Homo sapiens: one gene and its partners. The protein of the gene in region 2 interacts with the protein of the main gene of each other region in a biochemical or structural test. Each region holds a gene or a part of one and is shown on either strand. Other genes may lie near its edges. The genes, in order: MAP1B, SNCA, ENC1, MEF2D, PLD1, KIAA1191 and PREP.

Region 1 (3,500 bases), on a different chromosome or scaffold from region 2:
AAATGCAAACTGAGGCTATTAATGTTTCCAGGAAGAGCCATAAAATTCTCCCTTATAATTTGACCTTTCCTTAAGCACGTTAACTCTTCCACATCTGAATTCTTCCCATTGATCATATGAGAAATTTCTGCCTGTATTTAGTGGACACACATCTATTTGAAAATATTCCTCCTGGTTGAAAAGGTCTGTGGTGTGTAATCTAAAGATATTTTAGATGTGCAGTGAACTGAGTTTCCAGAATCTTTTTTTTTTGTAATGTCTATGTATAATCCACCTTGATTCTTTACAGGATAGGAAGACTGAATACAATATAACCAAGGGTAAATACAAATATGCCTTAAGGATCCAGTGTGTATTTAAGTAACACACTGCTATTTATTCCTTCAAGTCTGTATACATGACTAATGTCCAACAAAAATGATTACATGACTGGGTGTTAATTTAGAGATAGTTCACCTGCTGTGTTATACCTAGAGGTTCAAGCCCTTACCTTTAGGAGGTATGCAATAAATGTCTGTTGTTCTAGAGATTTGTTCCTGGCAATTGAGAATGCTGTATACAAAGGTACAATGATGGATACCACACACTGGCTCCACCATGAGCAACCTATTAGGAAAAATGTAATATATAATATGTAAACATGTAAAACACACACACACACCAGAGTTCTGGGGTTCCCCAACTTTCCCTGGCTTACTCTCCAGACCTCCCTTCTATGATGCTCTCTGGGGTTCCCTCTGGGCCATCCCCTTTGGGAGGGCAGGAGAAAGAGGACAGTGGGAGGAGGAAGGAAGAGGCTAGAGAGTAGGGCATGAGCACAGGAAGCTGCCCTCATCCCGCCTCTTGCCCTCCTGTTCCTCTCACCCTGGATATTCCTTTCAGCCTAGGGAAAGGAAGTCTGATAGGACTTCCTTTCCGTTCAGCCTAGGGTAGGAATAGCTGATTCATGTCCCCAACTCCATAAATGTTTTATAAAGTATAAAAAGTTGCCATTTTTCTTTGCCTCTGGATAAGAAAATTGAATACAATGAACAATTGTGAATAAAAGAGCTGCCTGCCAAGCTACTCAGGTAACAGAAAAGTGCCTGGAAGGACAGACAGGCCAAGTCTTGAAGATTGAGTGGATCCACTCTGTTTATCAAAGATCACATAAATCTTGGATTGATATCCAGGGCTCGATAAACCAAAGTCAAAAACGGGATTGGTAAAGGAAAGAAATTACACATGTATACTACCAGAACATCATTTTAGAAACAAAGGCCCGTGCTTGAATGGCAGCCCCCGTGTATTTTCTTTGCCTTTATTCTACATTTTCTTGCCACCTACAAGTGGAGTTAGTCTGTCTACAAGCTAGAGTTAGTCTGTTGGCCTCTTAGCTTCTTAAGAACTAACATCTTCCTGCCCTTTCTAGTCCCTCCCTGGAGTACAGCCTGTCATTTTCCTAACAACTGTTTTCTTTGACTCTTCCAGAAGAGGTGCATTTACTTTTTATGAGGGGCAGAAGCTCAGTCCACACTGCTAATTATCCCTCCCTTGTGGCCTGGTGGAGAGACCTCCCTGGCCCTCCCATTTTGTGGGCATCCACTGCTAAGCCACCAAGCTCTTCAGAAAAGGAGTTCCCACATCCTCCCTGAAAGCCTGAGAAATATTACAGTGATGTTGTCCAAACCACTCTGAAATGACTAACTGGAAGTCTCTCAACTGTCTTTCTTTCCCTCCCTAGGAATCCGATCATGGGACACAAACCTGATTGAATGCAACTTGGACCAAGAACTCAAACTTTTTGTATCTCGACACTCTGCAAGATTCTCTCCTGAAGTCCCAGGTGAGGCTTCCGCTCAGTGTTGGTCAGCCTAGAATTCCAAAGGACAAGGAGCAAGCTAGAAAGCTTTGTCTGAGGCAGCAAAAAGACTCTCTTATTGCTAAAAGGATACTTTGTATTTGTTATTATCAACTAGGTTAGCCAGCAGCCACAGTTTAGGAAGTCACTCTAGGTTATCACTGTGTGGGTTATCTATTTTGTGGATTCTTAATGAGTTTTTAAGTTCTAGGGTTGTGTATGTGTATATATATACACACACACACATCAATGATCACACAAATTTTGAATTGATATCCAGGGCTTGAGAAAGAGAGAGAGAGAAAGAGAGAGAGATAGTATAGTGTGTGTATGTGTATCTCACTGTACTCTGAGCTCAAGGGACTACAAACTATTTAAATGTTAATCTTACTCAAATGAAATTCTGAATACAAATTGGATGCTCCTAGGATCCCAGAACTGTCTTCCTGCAAAAGAAAAAGGAAACATATACTGCATTTCAAAATGAAATATACATCATCATTTCATAATTGCATTATCACCCGCCATTGCATTACCACTTATCTTTCTTCGTGTGGGTAAAAGAATCTGATATTACAAACTTCTGTTAAAATAGCCTTTTTTTCAGAGATGAAAAAGAATATCAAAGAATAATTAAAGGTAAGGATGCAAAAATTTGTCATATGTGAAGATGTTCCCACTAACCAGCCACCTTCCTGGGGCTATGATCTGACCCATGCCTCTGGCGCTGGAGATGTATTCATACTGACCCATCTCGTCTTCTTCTTGTGAGCAATAACCTATATTCCTCCCATTTGGTCACATTTAGGAATTATGAGACAGTTTCTGGCCCATAAAGACTCCAAACCTGGAATATATTTCTCCAGACCTTTGCCATTGACCCATCAGAAACACTGTATTACATCTTATTTCTTGACCATCACTTGAATTTTACATAAGAGAAAGCTATTTTCTGCCCATATGCTTTTGTTATATGATTCCTAATTTTATTGGCATTGATATAACATCAGGAATGAGATTCAGCCTATTTTGACTGGTTAGGTCATATTCCATTAGTCGTGTATATACATTGATATTTGAAATCACTTTTATAGAATATCAGTGCCTTCGTGAATCACATTTGGCTGCAGTAATATGCCCATAGGACTGTCTCAGTTCTTCCTTTTGAGTTTAATATTAGAATAAAATCCCATACATTTCAGTTATTGAAATGCATTGTAGCTTTCAAGTATGGAATTGAGTAAATGTGCTAAGAAAAGCTTAGCAAGAAATGGTTTATTAAAAGTTAACTTCCTGCAAAGCCACATGAAAAATCAGTTTTTAAGTAACTTTGCTTTGAGAAAAAAGGAATCCAGAGACTGTCAGACAGCATATGATTTGCTGAAGGAAAGGTACAGTATAAGGTTGTTTCTCTTGTTGTTATTTTATTGTATTTTTGTCTTGCGATATCTCCGTATCTTTTAAAACCATCTCACAAAAAAAATGAGGGAAGTGCTGTTTTCCAAAAAGTATGATTATTTCAAAATGTAAAAACTACAAGCTTTTATTTTTTCTCTGTAGGTTGTTCTGGCTTTTTTACTATGATTGTTTGTAAGACTTCTTTTTTTGTGTGTACAAGTCATGTGGTTCTCATTGTGTTCATTCATATTTGGACTGACTT
Region 2 (3,500 bases):
TGTGTTTTTTGCAAGATTCTTCACCTCTGTGTGATTTAGCTTCCTCATCTATAAAATAATTCAGTGAATTAATGTACACAAAACATCTGGAAAACAAAAGCAAACAATATGTATTTTATAAGTGTTACTTATAGTTTTATAGTGAACTTTCTTGTGCAACATTTTTACAACTAGTGGAGAAAAATATTTCTTTAAATGAATACTTTTGATTTAAAAATCAGAGTGTAAAAATAAAACAGACTCCTTTGAAACTAGTTCTGTTAGAAGTTAATTGTGCACCTTTAATGGGCTCTGTTGCAATCCAACAGAGAAGTAGTTAAGTAAGTGGACTATGATGCCTTCTAGGGACCTCCTATAAATATGATATTGTGAAGCATGATTATAATAAGAACTAGATAACAGACAGGTGGAGACTCCACTATCTGAAGACGGTCAACCTAGATGAATGGTGTTCCATTTAGTAGTTGAGGAAGAACCCATGAGGTTTAGAAAGCAGACAAGCATGTGGCAAGTTCTGGAGTCAGTGGTAAAAATTAAAGAACCCAACTATTACTGTCACCTGATGATCTAATGGAGACTGTGGAGATGGGCTGCATTTTTTTAGTCTTTTCCAGAATGCCAAAATGTAAACACATATCTGTGTGTGTGTGTGTGTGTGTGTGTGTGTGCGTGTGTGTGAGAGAGAGAGAGAGACTGAAGTTTGTACAATTAGACATTTTATAAAATGTTTTCTGAAGGACAGTGGCTCACAATCTTAAGTTTCTAACATTGTACAATGTTGGGAGACTTTGTATACTTTATTTTCTCTTTAGCGTATTAAGGAATCTGAGATGTCCTACAGTAAAGAAATTTGCATTACATAGTTAAAATCAGGGTTATTCAAACTTTTTGATTATTGAAAACTTTCTTCATTAGTTACTAGGGTTGAATGAAACTAGTGTTCCACAGAAAACTATGGGAAATGTTGCTAGGCAGTAAGGACATGGTGATTTCAGCATGTGCAATATTTACAGCGATTGCACCCATGGACCACCCTGGCAGTAGTGAAATAACCAAAAATGCTGTCATAACTAGTATGGCTATGAGAAACACATTGGGATAAATCGGCTGCTATCATAATCATTCCTCTCCCACATCAGATAAATGAATTAACTTTTTGAATAGGGTTATTTAATATAAAGTGCTTAAGTCTAATTATGAGAAGAAATAAGATAATTACACTTCAATGGTTAAAGAGAGGGAGAATAATTTGCATATTATGCCTGATGTAAAATGTTTATTATGGGTACATATTAAGTGCTAACTAATTGTTAATTGTTCTTGCTACAAGTCTTAATGCAGGGAAACAAGAAATTATTACATAGTACCTAATATTATCTTCTAATATTAAAGAAACAATTTCCCCTAAATTCATCCCATTAGCTTTTTTTTTTTCGGTGGGGCAGGGGAGAAATACAGACTTCAGTAAACTTGGGCTGGGAACTTTCTACCTACAAAGTTCAAATAAAATAAATTATCCTAGTTAGATAATATCAATGAAAAATCCACCAACTTAAATCCTGGCTGTTTGATCTCAGGAAATTATTTCAGTTATCAACTTAATGCATCATATTATAGAAATATATGAAAATGTGTTTAATTAAACTTACTGAATGATATGTTTTTTCAGGTACTTTAAAAATAAACTATGATATAAAGTTACCTATTTTTCATGCAAGTATAGTATAAAGAAATTTCTAACACTGGAGATTTTCTGAAGGTTTTGATTCTTATAAATTTATTACATCATAATGAACAAAACTAATTTTCAACATATTATGATTTAAATTTCCTTAGTAAATTGTTTCAAATTTATTTTCTTTAAATCCATATTTACATATGTATATTTAAATATACATATTTACTTGTATAACAATTCAAAACCATATATTAATTTTATAATTTTGTTTAATGTCAAAGGTTAGATTTGGCTATATCTATTCTAAAAGTTGGTATCACATTTCCTTTTTGGAATTTTATTTTTAAAGTAGCTAAAGTCAAATATAAACCTATTATTTATATTAATGCAGACATTAGAGGTAGACACTAAATTCATTTTAGTATATTCTAAATTATTTATTATCTACTATGAAATAATATAAAGAAAAATAAAGCAGAATCCCTGATTTCAAAGAACTCAATTGCCGAAAAACAGTTACCATTTATTAGACCCAAAATGTACTAATATGAGTGTGTCTCTTTTCCTTTTGTTTTGTCACCCGTCATTTGGAATGTCAGTGAGTAGAGAGATAGTGTGAAAGGCCCTCAAGGGGAAAAATAGAGGTTAAAGGTCAGCAGAGACCCTACTAGAGAAATCAGTTCTACAGAAATGTTTTTAAATGTGTCGATTATTGCTACATGTACACTCTGTCATTTTGTAATGTAGCCATTTTATTTATGATTATAATAATAAAACAACAAAATTATAATAATGTGTAGAGTACATTTTACTGTGCAGTGTATTGCATTAAAACTAGATTAAAATTTATACATATATAAAAGGCTATCTAGATATTATAAAATTTATGGCTGGATCTGTAAAAAATTCAAAACCTATTTTTAATCTCGCTTTGAGATTTTATAACAAGAAAATGTTCGTTTCAAGCAAAATTTTCAATTCACGTCCTTGAAAAGGAAAAAAATGACAACTTGAAACACATAATTGACTATTTTTAAAGGATCAACATTTCAGAAATGTTTTAAAACATAAGATTTTCAGTACAGCTTTTCGCTGGCATTTAAATCGAACTTTGAATTGTAAATAGCTCTTGCTCTTAAGGAGACATCAGCCATATCCTTAGAAGTGGCACGGAGTTGTTAGGTAGTTGTACAAAATTCTAGCCTAAAAGACAAATAGGGAGCAACACTACTGTGGACCGTTTCTGGTCTTGGGCTGTGTGGCTATGTCAGGCTTGCCCACATTGCCTGTACTAAGGAGAAAGCCTCTTGTCCTTACAGACCCCCTTAGCTTACATAGTCTATTTGAAAACAAATTGCTTTGTCCACACCATTTAAATATTGGCTTCAGGCCAGGCGCGGTGGCTCACGCCTGTTATCCCAGCACTTTGGGAGGCTGAGGCGGGCAGATCACGAGGTCAGGAGATCGAGACCATCCTGGCTAACACGGTGAAACCCTGTCTCTACTAAAAATATAAAAAAATTAGCCGGGTGTGGTGGCGCGCACCTGTAGTCCCAGCTGCTGGGGAGGCTGAGGCAGGAGAATGGCCTGAACCCGGGAGTCGGAGTTTGCAGTGAGCCGACATCGTGCCACTGCACTCCAGCCTGGGTGACAGAGCAAGACTCCGTCTCAAAATAAATAAATAAATAAATAAATAAGTAAATATTGGCTTCTTCAACTGGTGAGATGAAACCTATACAATAGTCATGTGAATAGCACTAAACAGCTGACATGGTGTAACTCCTCTCAGACTGAGGCTTATCTGGGGAGTACAAAGCATGTC
Region 3 (3,500 bases), on a different chromosome or scaffold from region 2:
TGGTGAAACCCCGTCTCTACTAAAAATACAAAAAATTAGCTAGGCCTGGTGGTGGGCGCCTGTATCCCAGCTATTCGGGAGGCTGAGGCAGGAGAATGGTGTGAACCCAGGAGGCGGAGCTTGCAGTGAGCCAAGATCATGCCACTGCACTCTAGCCTGGGTGACAGAGCGAGACTCTGTCTCAAATAATAATAATAATAATAAAATAAATAAAAAGCTCTTCAGGAGATTCTGAGGCTCAGTAAAAGCTGAGAACCACTGGCTAATGCCATGGTGGGGGCTGAGGCTGTGGTCAACACAAGTGGATAAGTTCTAGGGGCACCAGCTCTCTTATTTTTACAGCTTTGGTAGTACTTCTGCAGTACAGTCTCTGTGGATCAGATCTCACCCCATGTACTGAACTTACACAATAGCCTAATTATATGCATACTTACATCTATAGCTAAACTTCTTACCTCATGCTCACTCTCTTTAGAATGTACTGCATTTAAGAAGGCAGATGTTTCCAGGTGCTGACAAATGCAGTAGGAATCAGCGAGTACGGGACAGTGGTGATGCTGTTCCACACGTCTAATGTTGGATCGTAGCAGTCCAAAGTCTTGCATCGCTGAATGCCAAAGTATCCTCCAACCACGTAGAGTTTGTTTCCAGAGGCCACAGCATGGCAGCTCATGCGCTTTGCTGTCACATCTCCCACCTTGGTCCACTGGTAAGTCTCACTGTTGAATTTATAAGCAGAGCAGGCAGAGAATTCTGTATCACCCCCCATAATAAAAATCTGGTTCCCCAGCACAGCTGCTGCTGTGTAACGCCAGGGCTGGGGACAGGTGGCCGGTACAGTCCACCTGTTTTCACACTGATCGTAACACTGAACTTTGGGGAGCTTGTCATGACTGACACTGGTACCTCCGAAAGCAAATAACTTAAGTTTGGCACTCACTACTGCGGCGTTGCTAACGCCTTCTCGGAGTGGGGCCACCATGGTCCATTTGTTGATTGTGGGGTCATAATGTTCTACCTGCTTTAGAGAGACTGAGGGGGAGGCCGGGAGGCAGCCAGTTGCGGCCGTGTGCCCCCCAACCACATACAGGCAGTGCTTCAGTTCAGCAGAGCCATGGCCAAACCTGGCCACCAGCATGGGGGCAGCCTTGGACCACTCCTCGTGCAGGGTATCATAAACCCAGACATCTTTTGAGACCCCATTTTCAGACCCCCGCCCCCCAGTAATGTACACTTTGCAGCCAATCGCACATGCACTAAACTCTTTTCTTGGGCTGGGAATGTCAGCCTTGGGAATGATTTCTTTGGCCTTCTGGTCTACCAGATACAACTTGTCACACATGAAAGTCTGTCCTCCCAGAAGGAAGAGGGCATGGCCAGTTTTCCGAGGTCGGGCACAGAGGCTGGTTACCACACCGTCATTCTGCAGGATTTTCAGTTTGCACCTGATGGCCTCTTCCACAATTTCCTTACTCTTTCTCTGCTTGGTGATGAGTTCCTCCATGGCCACATTCTCCATGAGATAGATGGCTGGCAGAAGTGCCAGCCTTACTGTCTGCAACAGTTCTGGGAGGTAGCAATAGCGCTTCTTCAGGTCATAGCTGATCCAGTTAATTGCAGACTCGTACACAAGCCTTTCATCCTCTGTCTCCAGCTCTTCACTGGACAAGAGTTGCACTACCATGTCCTGGGGCAGCTGGAGGAAATCTTCATTCTTCCTGATGGTTTGGAAGTTGCTGAGACACATTCTCCAAGATAGTTCGTACAGCTTGGTGCACTGGTGTGCATCAGACAGCAGCAGCATGCCCAGGCAGTTGGTGGGATGCAGGTTCTTTTCCAGGAACTCTGCACATGCATCCCGGATGTCTTGAAACTCCAGCATGTCACCAGCTTCCAGGAGCGATTCTGCATTTTCTTCATTGATGATGACCCGGGAGGAGTACGCATAGTCAAGCAGCAGCTCCAAGACTTCTGGGTGGATGGAATTGTCAAAGTTGACCTCACTGTCCTGGCTCTCTTTCAGGCCACCACTGAACATGGCCTCAAAGTAGCGACTGCATGCAGCCAGCACTGCCCGGTGGCAAGGGAAGGTCCTATTTCCGGCATGGAGAAGGACGTCAGTGAAGAGACGCTGCTGGCGTAAAAGATTCAGGTGAGTGAGGACGCTGTCAGCGTAGGAGGACTTGTGAAACAGATAGATGTTAATGGAGCCGCTGCTGGCCCTGGACTTGCGGTTCTCATGCACACTGACTGACATTTTGTTTCCACTCCTAAAAATAATAATAATAATAAATTGAAAATGATGCTCCTGATGTTCAGAACAGCAGAACGAAAGCAACAATGGTTTTGCACAAAAAACAGAACACTTTGTTGTTGACCATGCCACCTACTATTCTAGAATAGTGTATGGCCATTCCAGGACAAAGCCAGAGACAACTACCCGGAAGGAAGGATATTCACTGCTAATACTGTTGAGCTATTTGAACTCTGCACTGTTTAAAAAAAAAAAAAAAATCACTGCATAAAAAGCAGGTTCATCTTGGAAAACCTGATTGCCAACTTTCAGGCCATCGAAGTCTTTTAGAATATAAGTCAGCAAAAGCCAAGAGGAGTGAGTCTCATTCCCACAGCTCCCTGTCCTAGTCCAGCTCATTCACTGCGGGCCACTTAAAATGCCAGGTCTCCTGCTCTTATAATGCCAGGATGGGCACTGGCTTTCATGCCCCATGCAACATAAAGCCATGCGTAAAACAAACACCTAATAATTAATTCCATTAAGAATTCCTTTGGTAAGATCCAATCTCCCAGCACATACAGTAAATGGGAAATGTAAGGCCAACTTCTGCAATGATCAGACCTTTATTTAAATGTTACAGATAATGTATTTCATTTTATATATACTTTTGAGACCAAGTCTCGCTCTGTCACCCTGGCTTGAGTGCAGTGGTGCAATCACAGTTCACTGCAGCCTCGAACTCCTGGACTTAAGTGATCCTCCTGCCTTGGCCTTCCGAGTAGCTGGCACTAAAGGTGTGCACCACCAAACCCAGATAATTTTTTGTATTTTTTGTAGAGACCGGGTCTCAAACTCCTGGCCTCACCTGATCCTCCCACCTCGGCATCCCAACTTAAAGATTAATTTCTAACCAGACAGCTCTACCACTGAAGAGTCCTAAAAGCACCCCAATTTCAACATTAACCATATATTGATCAGCAAGCCTTTAGTCAAAGCACAGAATAAATTCTGGCCATAATCACCAACTACCTGTCTTGCTCGGGACAGCTTCCAATGTGAGGATTTGGCACATAAAAAGAAGAATATTTTGAGTAGCATACTTATGACTGCTGTTTTCTGTTCTTCCCGCTTTATATCAATTCTTGGAAAACCAGCTGCAAGAACAAAAGATCCATCCGTCTTTTGATTAAATAGTGCATCACTAGGACTGTTCCTGTATACCTGCAAATGCTGACACCTGCATAGAAGGAGTTCAAAATGCAAA
Region 4 (3,500 bases), on a different chromosome or scaffold from region 2:
GCCTGCCGTGCATTTCTACTTGAAACTCAGGGATGGGCTCTCCCCGTATTCTTTGTTCTCTCAACCCTCAACCCTAGGTATTTGCTGGTGGGCTGAGGATGAGAGAATCACGAGGGATAAGCAAGCATGCAGCCAGAGGGATCTGGCAAGACTCGTGGGGCTAAGTGTGGAGGAGGCAGGTTCTGAGACAAGGAGACGGCTGGATGGGGAGGGGAGGGCTGGGCTCAGCTTCCCAACCCATCCCAGGGCCAAACGGAGCCCTAGGCCAGGAGGAACCCTCAAGGCCTCCTCAATCCCTACCCTGGACACCAAAGGCATTCCTTGCCCCCACCCCTGCTTCTGGGTAGCTGCCTTAGCAGGCCAGTCCTGGGCCAGGCTGGGGCTGAAGGTCTGAGAGAAAAGATGCAACCATCACACTTTTTCTGGCGGAAACTCCTTCCCTTCCCATGTGAGGCAGGTAGCACCACCTCCCTTTCACAGGTATGGAAACTCACACAGAGATGGGCAGGGACTTCCTCAAGGTCACCAGAAATAAGGGGCAGAGGCAGACTGACTGTTGGGCACAGGGCTTCTGCTTACAACCTGGATGGGAGTGGGAGGGAGTCTCCCTCCACCGGGGAGTTCTAGCACATTCCTTCCAGGGCCCATTCCCCAGGTCTGGGCCTGGGAGGCTCACATTGGCCTTGTGTCTGCCTTGAGACAAGCCCAGCCTCTTGTGGTCCAAGCCTTCCCACTCTAGTGTCTCTTCTCATTCATCCCATGCGGCAGCTCACAGGGACAGCAGGAGGGGTCTCGGAGTGTCATTTGTTCCTGCCCTCACACCCTTGCTTTGGGGGCTTTCTCCATGACACTCAAGTCAAAACAATACCCTCCTCACCTTGCCACCAAAGGCTGATTCTCTGCCCTCTGCTGAGGAATCCTGGTTTTCTCTTCCCTTCAATTTCTCCTCCTCCTCTCAGGTCTCCGTGGGCCTCCTTTCCATTGCCCCGTCCTGCAGGGCAGGATCTCTCCTTTAATCTCAGACAAAAGCCCTTTATACTTCATAACTAGGAAAGCTTAAAAGTCACTTACATCTCTGAGACTCAGTTTCCCAATTCAAAAAAACAGTTTTAGAGAGAAACAGTCTTCTTATATTCCCATGCTCAGTACAAAGCTTGGCACACAGGAACATAAGAAATGGAAGTTTCCTTCCTCCCTTTTGAGAACCCATCACCTCTCTTCATTGGGATCTCAAAAGTTTTGGTTTTTGGGCGGGGCACGATGGCTCACACCTGGAGTCCCAGCTACCTGGAAGGCTGAGGCCGGAGGATCGCTTGAATGGGAGGCTGCAGTGAGCCATGATGGCACCACTGCACTCGAGCCTGGACAACAGAGCAAGATCCTACCTCAAAAAAAATTAAAAAGTTGTGGTTTTTGGTCTTCAAAGTATACTGGAAAGTTGGGCAAGAGGGGTAATGCTGAGGGTAAAGCTCCTTTGACCAGGGGGCAAAAAAAAAAAAAAAAGCTCCCTCTGCATGGTTTCCTCGTCTGCTCAGCTCCTAGGAGAGTGGCCACAGCATCCAGCCAGAGGCACCAAGCCAAGGTCAGTGACCAGGCCTAGAGCCCAGAGCCTCCTGGGAGGGTAAGTTTAAATGAGTAAATATGGTCCCACCTGGGTGTGGCCAGCGACAGGCCAGAGCTTCGGACATGTCCCTCCCCTCCCAGCCTACAGCAGAAAGAAAAGAAGTCAGACAGGCACAAGTGCCTCCCGCCCCCTTGGCTATCAGGGTCCTGTGCAGAATCAATGAATGCATTCCCCTGTCTCCACACCAGCCAGGACTAACCAGAAGCATAACTTGGCTCTCAGGAAAGAGAGGCTTGTAGCCTCAGCCTCAGGAAAAGGAAAATGTCAGATGAAGAGGGCCTTGGGGATCACCTAGGCCAAGGATCTACCCCCAGATGCCTGATGGCTTAGATGTAGTCTTGATGCCTCACAGTGGCCTTGCTCATCAGGGTGAGCGGGGAGGGCAACAGAGACCAGCGACAAACCACCAAAACACCCAGGTGTTAATCACCGAAAGGCGAAACTCTGTACATCTGGAAAGCTGGGGCCCAAGAGGAGGGACCCGGGGACACACGGTCAGTGTGAGGGGCAGAGGCAGGCTGTGCCAGGAACACAGAGAGGGGCACGTGGGGGAGGGGTAAGGGGCAGGGATGGAAGTCAGCCAAGGCTCCTTGACTCACAAGCCATGCTCTTTATTTTGCAGACAGGGCTCTGCCTGCCCATCTGTGGTCTAACCTTAATCCCTCCTGCTCCAGTCAGCCCTTCTCTCTTCAAAGTTCTTGCTATGCCCTTCGCCTTCTTGCCTCCGGTCCCCTCAACCCCATCCCAACTCTCCAATCCTTTAATCATCTTTGCCATTCACTACCCCCCACCTCCCGCAGTGCAGCAGCTGCTCTGTGGGTGTCTACATACCAGTGTGTATGTGTTGCACACTTTCCTGCATGTGTACCACTAAATGCTGTGGACTGCATTGGGCATGCCTGTCTACATGAGACCCTTATCTAGCTCCCACTACTGGGGGAAAGGGGCCTAATGGCTATTTCTCCCACAGCTCCAGGACAAACGCCTCAGAATACTTTCAGCCATAAGCAGGGAGAGGAAAAAGAAGATAAATATTCCGAGATCCAAATAGCACCGACCCCACCAAGCCAAAGGTCAAGGCCTTTCCTTTCGGGAGAGCCACTGGAAAAGAAAGTGCTTTGAGTTCCCCTCCTTTCCTATGCAAAATTAGAGCCATCTCTCTCCCCCCCAGCTTCCCCACTGGGAAGTTCTTCCTGAAGTCTAAGCTCCATCCTACCTGCTGTGATCATGGATAGACAGAGTGACATCGACCACAATACAGTCAGACGTCCAGCTTCTAGAACACAGCTTCTAGTACCTAACCGCCCCTCCCTCCATGAGTAAGTCACCAAACTGGGACAGAAGGACAGACAGTTGGCCGGACTCCGGCCCCATGACTGGCTCATAAAAGCCACCAGCAATTACAGTGATGCTGAGGTTGTGCCGGCCTGCCACCATTTCCTCCTTCTCTATAAAAAAGAGATAGTTGCCTCAAACCAGCTGGCCTGAGAGAGCCTCGAGAGTCCCAGCCATGGTCCCGTGGGATGGGGAGAATCCCAGCACCACAGTGCCATGAGACTCAGAACCTGACCCTTGATGATGGGTTCCAGGCTCACATCGGATCCTCATACCCACTTATAGAACCTGATGAACACCAACGATGACCTGTGTCCAAGAGGTCAAGGCCTGTATTAAGTCAAGGCCCTCAACTCCTCTTTTCCAGTAAGGCCACCACTCTCTCGACTAGAGGGGCAAAGAAGCAGGGGGCCTGACTCAAATAGAACTAGGGAAATGTTGGGCCCACCCACTTGCTCCTGGACTTCCCTTGTCCCCATAAAGGTACTCAGGTGTGTGGCAAAGTGTCCAACCAAGGGCCCACACCAGGCCAGCGTAAGTC
Region 5 (3,500 bases), on a different chromosome or scaffold from region 2:
GCATTGCTGAGTCTGTTCTTCTCTTGTAAGAAAAGAAAACAGATTCAGTGGAATTTTGGCTGTCCCATATTCAGCTTTGTTTTCCATTTTAATTAAGATTTATTTTTTATTCAGAAATAAGATTCATAAACAAAAATATGTGGCAATTGAGATTTAGGTAGTAAAAAGCCTTAAGTATCTGCCACAGTTTTTGGAAAGTTCCTACTTAAAGATATACAAAAACAGGATAGGTCAGTCTGGGGTCATTTAGAGGGAATTTGAGCCAGAAGTGAATAACTTCCCAAAGTGCCTTTTAAATAGAGCTGCCAAAATATCTGTATGTGTATATCAATCTGCTTGCTATTTCAACTAAATGGCTGCCAGAATATGAATACACTTATTAAAAAAAGTGTATATCAATCTGCTTGCTATTTCAACTAAATGGCTGCCAGAATATGAATACACTTATTAAAAAATTTGATGGGCTTCATCTTATTTACTGCTGGAAAATAGTGCAAAACTTATGCAAAAATAGCAATTTAGTGCATAAGGAACAGGGAAAATGATTGACAGAGGAAGCCTTGCTTACTTAATGTTTATTAGAGGAACAAGTTCAGGAGCTCAACACTGAATGTAACCCATGTAATTGTATTTGAGATTAAAAGTTTAATTGGAGTGAAATTTCAAGAATTTGGCCTACTGAAAAAAGACCATAGCAGAACTCCTCATATTCCTTTGGTAGTTTTTAAACAGTTCACAAGAATCCACCACTACCCTGTGGCTGACCTCAGACATTATTGCATGTCTGTTATAGAACCTCCATCATTTGTAAACTTTATACTTCAGCTCTACTTGAATTAAAGAACCACACTGCAGCATGTCTTATGCAGTGTCTTTTTTTAAAAAAAAATTTTTCTCAGCCTGCCGCAATGGAGTCTATGGAATCCTTAAGACTCAAAGATAAAAATGAGCCTGTTCAAAACCTACCCATCCAGAAGAGTATTGATGATGTGGATTCAAAACTGAAAGGAATAGGAAAGCCAAGAAAGTTCTCCAAATTTAGTCTCTACAAGCAGCTCCACAGGCACCACCTGCACGACGCAGATAGCATCAGCAGCATTGACAGCACCTCCAGTAAGTCATGGCCTTGACTAGAATTTATCTTAACTACCCACTGTTCTTCCATAGCCAGACACTACATACCTGTTTTTAAAATCTGTCTTTCTGTAATGGAGTAGAATGAGCAATGTTGAGAGGTCGCTATATCATTCTATTCAACCTCATGCCATTTGGTGGCTTTGTTTGCCTCATTTTAGAACAGATTTATTGTTTTATCCACACAAAAGTCATAACGACCACGATTACCACTTCTAATGGTAGCAGAATGACAAAGGGTTTCTAAAATATGCCAAGCCATAAAAGAAAAAGGTATTAGATGTACTTTATAAACTTTTCTTAGAAGAAATTACATTTATCTTCCTATCCAGAAATATATCAAGCTTATTTCGTCAAACATCAGACTTTCTACATCTTGTAAATTTACTATTCCTTTGAAATCCATCTTAAAGCCCTACAATTTTCTGTTGCACAGAATCTTAAGACTGATGTTATAGCCCTGCCTGGTTTTAAAAATGATCAGCTTTGCTTTCCAGTTTAGAAAATTTGATATTTGTATTTTTTTGTAAAAAAATTCTTAATTTCTCTAGGTTATTTTAATCACTATAGAAGTCATCACAATTTAATCCATGGTTTAAAACCCCACTTCAAACTCTTTCACCCGTCCAGTGAGTCTGAGCAAGGACTCACTAGACCTCATGCTGGTAAGTAATTTGTGAAGTGGCAGAACTCCCTTAGGCTTGAGCTTTGGTTGTGTTGTCTGCTGCATGGGCATAGTGAATGTGTTTCCAGATTGGCTTTCTGTTTGCAATTTTTATGCTACGTATATTATTGAGAGCCTGCTCTGTGCAAAGCATTCTGTAGTATCCAAGATCCCTACTCCCTAAGAACTTATAGCAGCAAAGACAAAACAGACCTAATAAGAGAAAATGCATGGCACATGCAATTCAATAGTGTCATGGAAGTTCTATGGAAGGAGGGAGGAATTCCTCTCTGATGATGCAGAAAGACTTTTTGAGGAGGGGACATTTGGGTTAGGCCTGGAAGTAATTTAATTGGGGTAGGTGATAGGAAGTCATTGCAAGTGAGGGAGGTGAGTTGAGCAAAGGTGCTGGAATGGGAAAGCACCAACTGCTTTCAAATTGTGTAAAATGCATTATTTAGCTAAAATGCAGTTTTTGATATAAGACTAAGAAGATATATGACATTCACATTTGGGAGCTGGAATTTTATTTGGTTAAAAATCTTTTTTTTTTTTTTTTTTTGAGATAGAGTCTTGCTCTGTCACCCAGGCTGCAGTGCAGTAGGGCCGTCTTGGCTCACTGCACCCTCCGCCTCCCAGGTTTTAGCGATTCTCCTGCCTCAGCTCAGCCTCCTGAGTAGCTGGGATTATAGGCGTGCATGACCGTGCCTGGCTAATTTTTGTACTTTTAGTAGAAATGGGGTTTTGCCATGTTGGCCAGGCTTGTGTTGAACCCCTGACCTCAAGTGATCCGTCTGCCTTGGCCTCCGAAAGTGCTGGGATTACAGGTGTGAGCCACCGCTCCTGGCCAGTTAAAAATCTTGAAGGCCTTTGGGTGGATGTGTCATGCTGTGTGAATTTTCAGAAATTACAATCTGATAGCCTTTGGTAAGAAGATACTCCAGATACTCGAGGAATTAATGAATGACTAATAAGTTTAACTTGTGGTGGGAATAAAGAAGGATTTGGCCGCTGGTCAGATATGGGGATAAGTAATCATCATAATAAATGACACTAGTAAGATCATAAGCTAACATTTATTTTGCACAGACTCTATCCATCACTGCCCTGAGTAGTTGCAGTGCTTGGTAGTGATATTGTCATCTCCTTTTTACAGATGAAGAAACTCAGGGTTAGAGATGATACATGACCTGCCCAATGGAGTTCCAATTTATCATCCTCCCAGTGCCCATAATTAAGACCTGTGATTTAGCAGAAATAAAGATTACTATGTTATGCTTTTTTGGCTAGAACCTAAGGCCAGGGCTCTCATGTCCTGTTTAGCAGATGAGAGTTACAGTCTAGCTCACATGCCTGAATGTGAGTCACCTGTGGCTTGCAGGTGCTAATGAACCTGAAAAATTATGCTAGACTTTGAGTAATGATTCCCAGCATTCTTTCATCTAGGGCAGGGGTGTCCAATCTTTTGGCTTCCGTGGACCACATTGGAAGAAGAATTGTCTTGGGCCACACATAAAATATACTAACACTAATGATAGCTGATGAGCTAAAAAAAGTTGCAAAAAAAAATTACAATGTTTAAGAAAGTTTGTGAATTCGTGTTGGGCCACATTCAAAGCCATCCCGGGCCGCATGTGGCCCACAGGCTGTGGGTTGGACAAGCTTGGTCCAGCTACGCTGCATTTTAAAAAATGCAATAATC
Region 6 (3,101 bases), on a different chromosome or scaffold from region 2:
TTGTTTTGAGACAGAGTCTCACTCTGTCACCCAGGCTGGAGTGCAATGCTGTGGTCTCAGCTCACCACAACCTTCGCCTCCCAGGTTCAAGCAATTCTCCCACCTCAGCCTCTGGAGTAGCTGGGACTACAGGCGCCCACCACCACGCCTGGCTAATTTCTGTATTTTTAGTAGAGATGGGGTTTCACTCTGTTGGGCAGGATGGTCTCAAACTCCTGACCTCGTGATCTGCCCGCCTAGGCCAACCAAAGTGCTGGGATTACAGGTGTGAGCCATCACGCACCACCTATACTTTGATTTTCTTATTCACATCTGTTGAATCAGCAACACTACTTTTATTTTACAAGCTTGAGAATGTGTTCTAGCAGTGTTACAAAACTTATTCATTGTTCTTTTAGCACAATGTAACTTTTTTTTTTTTTTTGAGATGGAGTCTTGCTCTGTCGCCCAGGCTGGAGTGCAGTGGCACGATCTCGACTCACTGCAAGCTCCGCCTCCCGGGTTCACGCCATTCTCCTGCCTCAGACTCCCGAGTAGCTGGGACTACAGGCGCCTGCCACCACACCCAGCTAATTTTTGTATTTTTAGTAGAGATGGGGTTTCACCTTGTTAGCCAGGATGGTCTGGATGTCCTGACCTCTTGATCCGCCCGCCTTGACCTCCCAAAGTGCTGGGATTACAGGTGTGAGCTACTGCATCCAGCCCCATGTTGCATTTCTAAATACAAAGAAAATGTCACCATGTACAACTAAGAGGAGGGTGGGAGTATTGTCCTCAAGGTTCTTCAGCTGTCCCTTTAGGAATAACCTCTTCAGCTTGGTGTGAGGGAAGGCTTCCTTCTGGCTAGAGAGCCTTTGTGTGAGGTTCAGAATTACTGCTGTGGTGCCTCTCTGGGGAAAGTCTCCTCTTCTTTGAATGGTCAGTGTGGTCTCTTGCTTCTGGGGAGAATAGTAGATATCCATGTTGTCCTCCTTATTTTGTGATGGGAGAGGGGAATGGGCATGACTGTCATCTCCTCTGTTCCCAGAACAGACCCAGGAAAGCATTCAGCATTTTGAGCGACAGGCAGGGCTGAGAGATGCTGGCTACACACCCCACAAGGGCCTCACCACCGAGGAGACCAAGTACCTTCGAGTGGCCGAAGCACTCCACGTAAGCTCTTAGGAACTTTGAAAAAACAAAACCTTCAGTGTTCATGGCTTGAAATGTGGCTGTGGTTTTGAAGTTACCAGCTCAGTTAGTTGGGGGCTGTGGAGTTAGTCTCGCTCCCGAGCTCTTAGCCTCGTAGTTTTTGCTTATCCACCTATACAGTGGGGTGTCTGTTTTGCTACTTCTGGTTAGCAGAATCAAGTGAGAGCCTCAGCTTACATATACATAGGAGTACTTTATGAATCATAAAGCAAATGTGGAGTATCTTGGGGAGAACTGGGCAGCCTCAACAGAGGTAACAGCTTAACTGGAAAGGAACAAGTTAAAATCAAATGTGGAATTGGAATGTTTTTGCTATTTCATTTCTATAAGTGAAGAATTTTGGTAAGGGTTAATTTAGTGATAGCCAAGTATTTGAATGAATAGTTTCAAATGACTTTCTTTCAGTGAAGACCGCTTCATACTGGATAGTGTTTTATGATTGTGAAGCACTTGCATTCATTTCATCCTCACAATCACCTTTTGGGACAGATGCTCTTCTCCATATTTTGTAAATGAGGAGATTGAGGTTCGAGGCCATCTATTCAGCCAGTCATAGTACCCGAACCCAAGTCTCCTGATGCCTTACTTCCTGTTGGCTTCTTCCTCCTCATTCCAAAGCAGCCTGGAAATCTGGCTCCTGAAGGGGCTCATATGGAAGTCAGGGGCAGATTGTGAAGAGACACAATTACAGTTAAGAAACTTGGGCTGTCTTCTTTAGGCAAGGGGGGGTCAGAATCCAGGCTTGTTCCAAGCTTTATTTTAAGAGTTCTGAACAGGGTATGATGAGGGCAAGGTGAGGAGAGCACACGACGCAGGAAAGAATCATGGTATACATTATACATAACGAGGAATAACCCGGATCTGGTGGCCTGTGGGTGGGGATATAAAACTGTGGATATAAAACTGTGGCCTGTTTGCAGTCACCCAGGCTGGAGTACAGTGTTGTGATCTCGGCTCACTGCAACCTCTGCCTCCCGGGTTCAAGTGATCCTCCCAACTCAGCCTCCCAAATAGCTAGGATTTACAGGCATGCGCCACCATGCCCAGCTGATTTTTAGTAGAGATGGGATTTCACCATGTTGGCCAGGCTGGTCTTGAACTCCTGACTTCATGTGATCCACCTGCCTTGGCCTCCCAAAGTGCTGGGATTACATGTATGAGCCACCGCACCCGGCCCTGTTTGCATTTTGTAATGAGCATTCCAGATGATTCTTTTGCAGGCTAGGTTTAAAAACTGCTATAGGAAATCAGGTTTGGGCTGGTGGCCAGTTTAAGCTTTCAAACAAGACAGAAGCTTCCAGAGAGGGGCACCGGCAGCCTTTGACCCTTAACTGAGAACTTTCCAGGATAGGTCAGTGAGAATTCTATTTGAGCAATTCACCTTATATAATGGTAGGATTGACTTTGGTTGACCCACTTTCTGTGTCTTGCCCATAGGAGTAGAACATGAGGATGGCTGAAATATTAGCTGTAACTTACATCTTGTAACAGATTGTCAACTTACATGAATGGATCTGTTGAGCGTTTGAGAAAATTCAAACGTGATCATTGTTTGGTGTGCAGCTTGGGTTAAGCAGTGGCGTGGCAGGCCTGGAGGGAGGAAACAGCATGGGAACCTTGCTCTAGAAGAGCTGAGATGTAGACCTGTCTCTCCCCACTAGACTGCGAGTCAGAGGAATGCTCACGGTGCTGAGGGAACCCAGAGTGGCTGACTATGGGAGAGAAGGAGGAGAGAATGGAACAGGCTCCTCAGAGGAAGCATTTAGCTGGAGAGAAGCAGCATGCCTGAGTATTGGCTTGGAGAGACTGAGGATGGGCAGGGCTTTGTACATGGTAGGAGCAGCAGCGAGACAAGAGCTTAAGCCCTGCTTAAAAGGCCAAGAAGGCTGGCAGCTAGCGTTCTGGCTCTT
Region 7 (3,500 bases), on a different chromosome or scaffold from region 2:
TGCTCTGGGTCTTCCAAGGTCAAAGAAGGTCAAAGTCAAGGTGTTGGCTGGTTGGACTCTTACGGGGAAACTCTGGAAAAAACCTACTTGCAGTCTCGGGATGTTGGCAGAATTTAGTTTTGTGCGGCTGTGGGACTTAGGTCCTGTTTCCTTGATGGCTATTGGTTGGGGGTTGCTCTCAGGTTCTAGAGGTCCCCCTTCCTCCATTGTCAAAACCAGCAATGGCAGGCTGAATCCTTTACAAGCTTCCAATTTCTCTGACCTCCCTTTCTGCTGCATCCCTGACTCCAGCCAGAGAATGTGCTCAGCCTTTAAGGGTTTATGTGATTTGGGACCCCTCAAGAGATAATCCAAAGAGCAGCAGATGAATATCCTGCTCCCTGACAGCAAGCAGTATCTAGGTAAGTGTTTGAATAACCAGGGTAGGAATCTTGGGAGGCCATCTGTAGAATTCTGCCCTACCACATTTTTTGTAGTTTGTTGCTTTTGTTCAAGACCATATTAAATCAAGAAAGACAAGTAGGTAGTCCCATCTCCTCTCCAGCAGATTATATGCAAATGCAAGACCCTGACAGTGACAAAGCTCAAGCACTAATCCTGCTGTGACTGTGTTCAACTTTATATCAAACCACTAACAACATATATATGTCAATAAAACCTTACTTGACAAGCCATTCAAAGTGTTGTTTGCTGTCCGAGCACCCATAATCAGTGGTCCAAGCATGGCCGATGGTATATTTATGAAACTTCAGCATGTCCATTACTCCAACTTGGGCAATAACACAACCAAAGAGGTCAGGTCTCTGATTTGCACAAGCAGCTAAAAGCCCAACGTAGAAAGAAAAGGGAGGCAGTCTATCATTAAACATCTACATAAACAAGGCAAGGCAATACTTACTTACATGCTTCCAGAGCCCTGGTTGCATTTATCCAGAGCACAAGAGGAAACCATCAGAAATCACCTGCCCAATAGCCCCAAAGCTCCCCACCCACTCTGAGATCTGTCAGAGGGGGTGGGGATTCTCATCAGTAATGGAGCTTTACTCCCCAAAGTGAATCTTGAAAAGCTTGAGGACTTTCTGGAAACCCTGTATCCCCTCCTCCCATCCCCACTTGCTTTCACAGTGATGAGGGAGATTAAGGGACTTGTTCAAGATCTCAGGACCTGCCCAAGGCAAAATAAATAGGGTCTCTTCGTATGTCATTTATCAGATACCCAAATACAAATGGTACAAATGGGTTTTGCTCTCCTTATACCACTTTGTGGTCCTATCCACAAAGTTAAGTCAAGAGCTGCCTACAGATGGTGTATCTGAAAACCCCAAGAGGGCTAACTAGTAAGTGCAATGAATAAAATCCAGTACTCACCCACTAAGAGGCCTCCATTTGAACCTCCATTAATAGTCAGCCTCTTGGGAGATGTGTAACCTTCCTTGATCAGATACTCAGCAGCACACTGAAAGTCATCAAAGCAGTTTTGTTTGTTGGCCAAGATACCACCTACAGTGTGCCAAAGTGGAAGATAGTTAATTAACAAAACATAAAAATAAGTTTAATCTAATGGGAATTCAAATGATAGAGCACGGTTTCAAATACTGATTAACTTAAAAACCATGGGTTAACACTGCATTTAAAAAAAAGCCTCAATTTAAGTTCTGTTATGCACTGTGGAAATATATCATCAATACCACAATGCTAATCCATATGGTGGATCTGTATTTTTCTAAAAGCCTCTAGAACTTAAACGGGAAATGCCCCAAAGGGAACAGATGGTCGGTTATGAGAGATGTATGATAATGAAAGGATAGAAGCATGGCATCACAAGGAACCTGTATTTTGGGAAGCTGAACTTACAAATATAAAGCAAGACCTGCAGCAGTGTTTAGTCCTCTAGGTTGCACCCAGCACCCGAGCCGGAGCTGGCTGTGGGAGTGCTCGTGTCTCCCCTCCCCGCGAAGACGGAGGTGGAAGCGCTCTGCAGAGGCACGCTTCCCACCCCACCTCTGCAGGAGTCTGACATGGTCGGTGATGGGGAGAAAGAAATTCCCCAGTCTTGCCCTCGGTTATTAATGGAAAGAACAAAAGGAATTGGGTGGTGAGGTAGCGTTGCGGCAGAGCATCACATTATGTTTTCTCAATTCCAGAATGAAAGATCTTCAACGTTTCCCCAGAGAATCTGGGCTTTATCATCTGCAAATCGTTCCAGTGTATTAAACCAAACAAATTACTTGGAGAAACATTTACAGGGCCATGAAATATCTATAAGTAAAGGCCAAAAGTCAAAAGCATGTCCTCAAAGGAACAGATGTCTGAAATAACGGCCTTTGAAATGAACAAAGAGCAGACACAGATCTAATTAGATACTTGAGATTAACCACTTCTGCTGAAATTTAATTAAAGATAAAGCAGTCCTACTGAAATGTTTTTCATATCAAAACAAATGTTATTAAGATTTCAGTAAGAAATTACCAGTGAATTTAGAACAGCTAGGATTACTTAGTTACTAGGAATAACAATATTTTGGGTATATGACTACATTTTAAAAAGAGCATTAAATTTTAAAGTCAATTAACAGAATGGAATTTAGATTTACCAGTGTATCATATCCTAGGCTATAACTGGAAAAGGTCTATTTCTGGTCCTTTCATCATGGCCTAAATTTTGAGGAAGTTTATAAATCAGTCTAAACATAGTCTACTGTTAGCCTTAGTCAATCTTGAACCTGCCTAATCCCAAGACTGGAAAATAACTTGGTTCTAACTAATAAAAAATGAGAGAGCAGACTAGGACCAAATTACTCTTCCCTCTCAGAGCATGGTGGACATCTGATGACCAGAGGGGTTTTCTGGAGAATAATCCAGTTATTTCAGGAGAGGATCCCAGGATCAGGGGACCATGAGTAGGGGGTATGGTGCATAAACTACATACAATTTAAATAGGAAATCAGGTGAGTCAAGGGGTTCAGAATTAGCATACATATTTGGGATCAAACATATGGTATACAGAAATTTTATCCTCTTATCACTCATCTTTTAATATCAGTTTCACAGTATGATTTTAGTGTAAACTCTAATATCAGCTCAAAATTATGCAATGAATTCTTTGCAGTTTCAAAGACAGTCACAATCAGTAGTTTCTGGGGATGATAACTGGCAACGATGGACCAGATGGCCGGCCAGGGGCACTCACTTTCACTAAGGTGCACTTGAGGAGTCTGCTGTCAGCCCCTGGGGTGCATGCTGGATGCCCGGGGGTCATTTCTAAGCCTTTCCTGCATATGGTACCTAACAGGTACTTAATGGAAATCTCTTTACAACAGGTTTACCCTCATGTTCGCTGATTTGATTTGATGCAAAAAAAATCCAGAGCCTCAGGCCTCTGGTTTGGGATGGCATGGGAAACAGAAGAGAGGTACAGATATCTTAAGGGTGGTCTCTGATGCTGAGGAGACCCCTCTCACCTGGAGCTGCTGACCAGCCCCAAGCACTGGGGTCCTGGTA

Evidence for each region.
Region 1: the proteins of SNCA (region 2) and MAP1B form a complex in vitro, tested with the Homo sapiens proteins (one study listed by BioGRID).
Region 3: the proteins of SNCA (region 2) and ENC1 interact in a test that uses a peptide from one of them, tested with the Homo sapiens proteins (one large-scale study listed by BioGRID).
Region 4: the proteins of SNCA (region 2) and MEF2D form a complex in vitro, tested with the Homo sapiens proteins (one study listed by BioGRID).
Region 5: the proteins of SNCA (region 2) and PLD1 form a complex in vitro, tested with the Homo sapiens proteins (one study listed by BioGRID).
Region 6: the proteins of SNCA (region 2) and KIAA1191 form a complex in vitro, tested with the Homo sapiens proteins (one study listed by BioGRID).
Region 7: the proteins of SNCA (region 2) and PREP form a complex in vitro, tested with the Homo sapiens proteins (one study listed by BioGRID).

The regions. Positions count from the first base shown.
Region 1 is NC_000005.10:72,113,975-72,117,474, forward strand, and holds part of MAP1B (microtubule-associated protein 1B), read left to right. Parts: intron 1-1,723; coding exon 1,724-1,825; intron 1,826-3,500. UniProt on the Homo sapiens protein: Facilitates tyrosination of alpha-tubulin in neuronal microtubules. Phosphorylated MAP1B is required for proper microtubule dynamics and plays a role in the cytoskeletal changes that accompany neuronal differentiation and neurite extension.
Region 2 is NC_000004.12:89,823,662-89,827,161, reverse strand, and holds part of SNCA (alpha-synuclein), read left to right. Parts: intron 1-3,500. UniProt on the Homo sapiens protein: Neuronal protein that plays several roles in synaptic activity such as regulation of synaptic vesicle trafficking and subsequent neurotransmitter release.
Region 3 is NC_000005.10:74,634,229-74,637,728, forward strand, and holds part of ENC1 (ectoderm-neural cortex protein 1), read right to left. Parts: intron 3,474-3,500; exon of another isoform or gene 3,266-3,473; intron 2,271-3,265; 5' UTR 2,258-2,270; coding exon 488-2,257; 3' UTR 456-487; intron 1-455. UniProt on the Homo sapiens protein: Actin-binding protein involved in the regulation of neuronal process formation and in differentiation of neural crest cells.
Region 4 is NC_000001.11:156,494,276-156,497,775, forward strand, and holds part of MEF2D (myocyte-specific enhancer factor 2D), read right to left. Parts: exon of another isoform or gene 1,652-3,500; intron 1,487-1,651; exon of another isoform or gene 878-1,486; intron 1-877. UniProt on the Homo sapiens protein: Transcriptional activator which binds specifically to the MEF2 element, 5'-YTA[AT](4)TAR-3', found in numerous muscle-specific, growth factor- and stress-induced genes.
Region 5 is NC_000003.12:171,684,984-171,688,483, reverse strand, and holds part of PLD1 (phospholipase D1), read left to right. Parts: intron 1-899; coding exon 900-1,113; intron 1,114-1,685; coding exon 1,686-1,799; intron 1,800-3,500. UniProt on the Homo sapiens protein: Function as phospholipase selective for phosphatidylcholine. Implicated as a critical step in numerous cellular pathways, including signal transduction, membrane trafficking, and the regulation of mitosis.
Region 6 is NC_000005.10:176,348,664-176,351,764, reverse strand, and holds part of KIAA1191 (putative monooxygenase p33MONOX), read left to right. Parts: intron 1-1,027; coding exon 1,028-1,152; intron 1,153-3,101. UniProt on the Homo sapiens protein: Potential NADPH-dependent oxidoreductase. May be involved in the regulation of neuronal survival, differentiation and axonal outgrowth.
Region 7 is NC_000006.12:105,281,083-105,284,582, forward strand, and holds part of PREP (prolyl endopeptidase), read right to left. Parts: intron 1,501-3,500; coding exon 1,369-1,500; intron 821-1,368; coding exon 664-820; exon of another isoform or gene 1-663. UniProt on the Homo sapiens protein: Cleaves peptide bonds on the C-terminal side of prolyl residues within peptides that are up to approximately 30 amino acids long.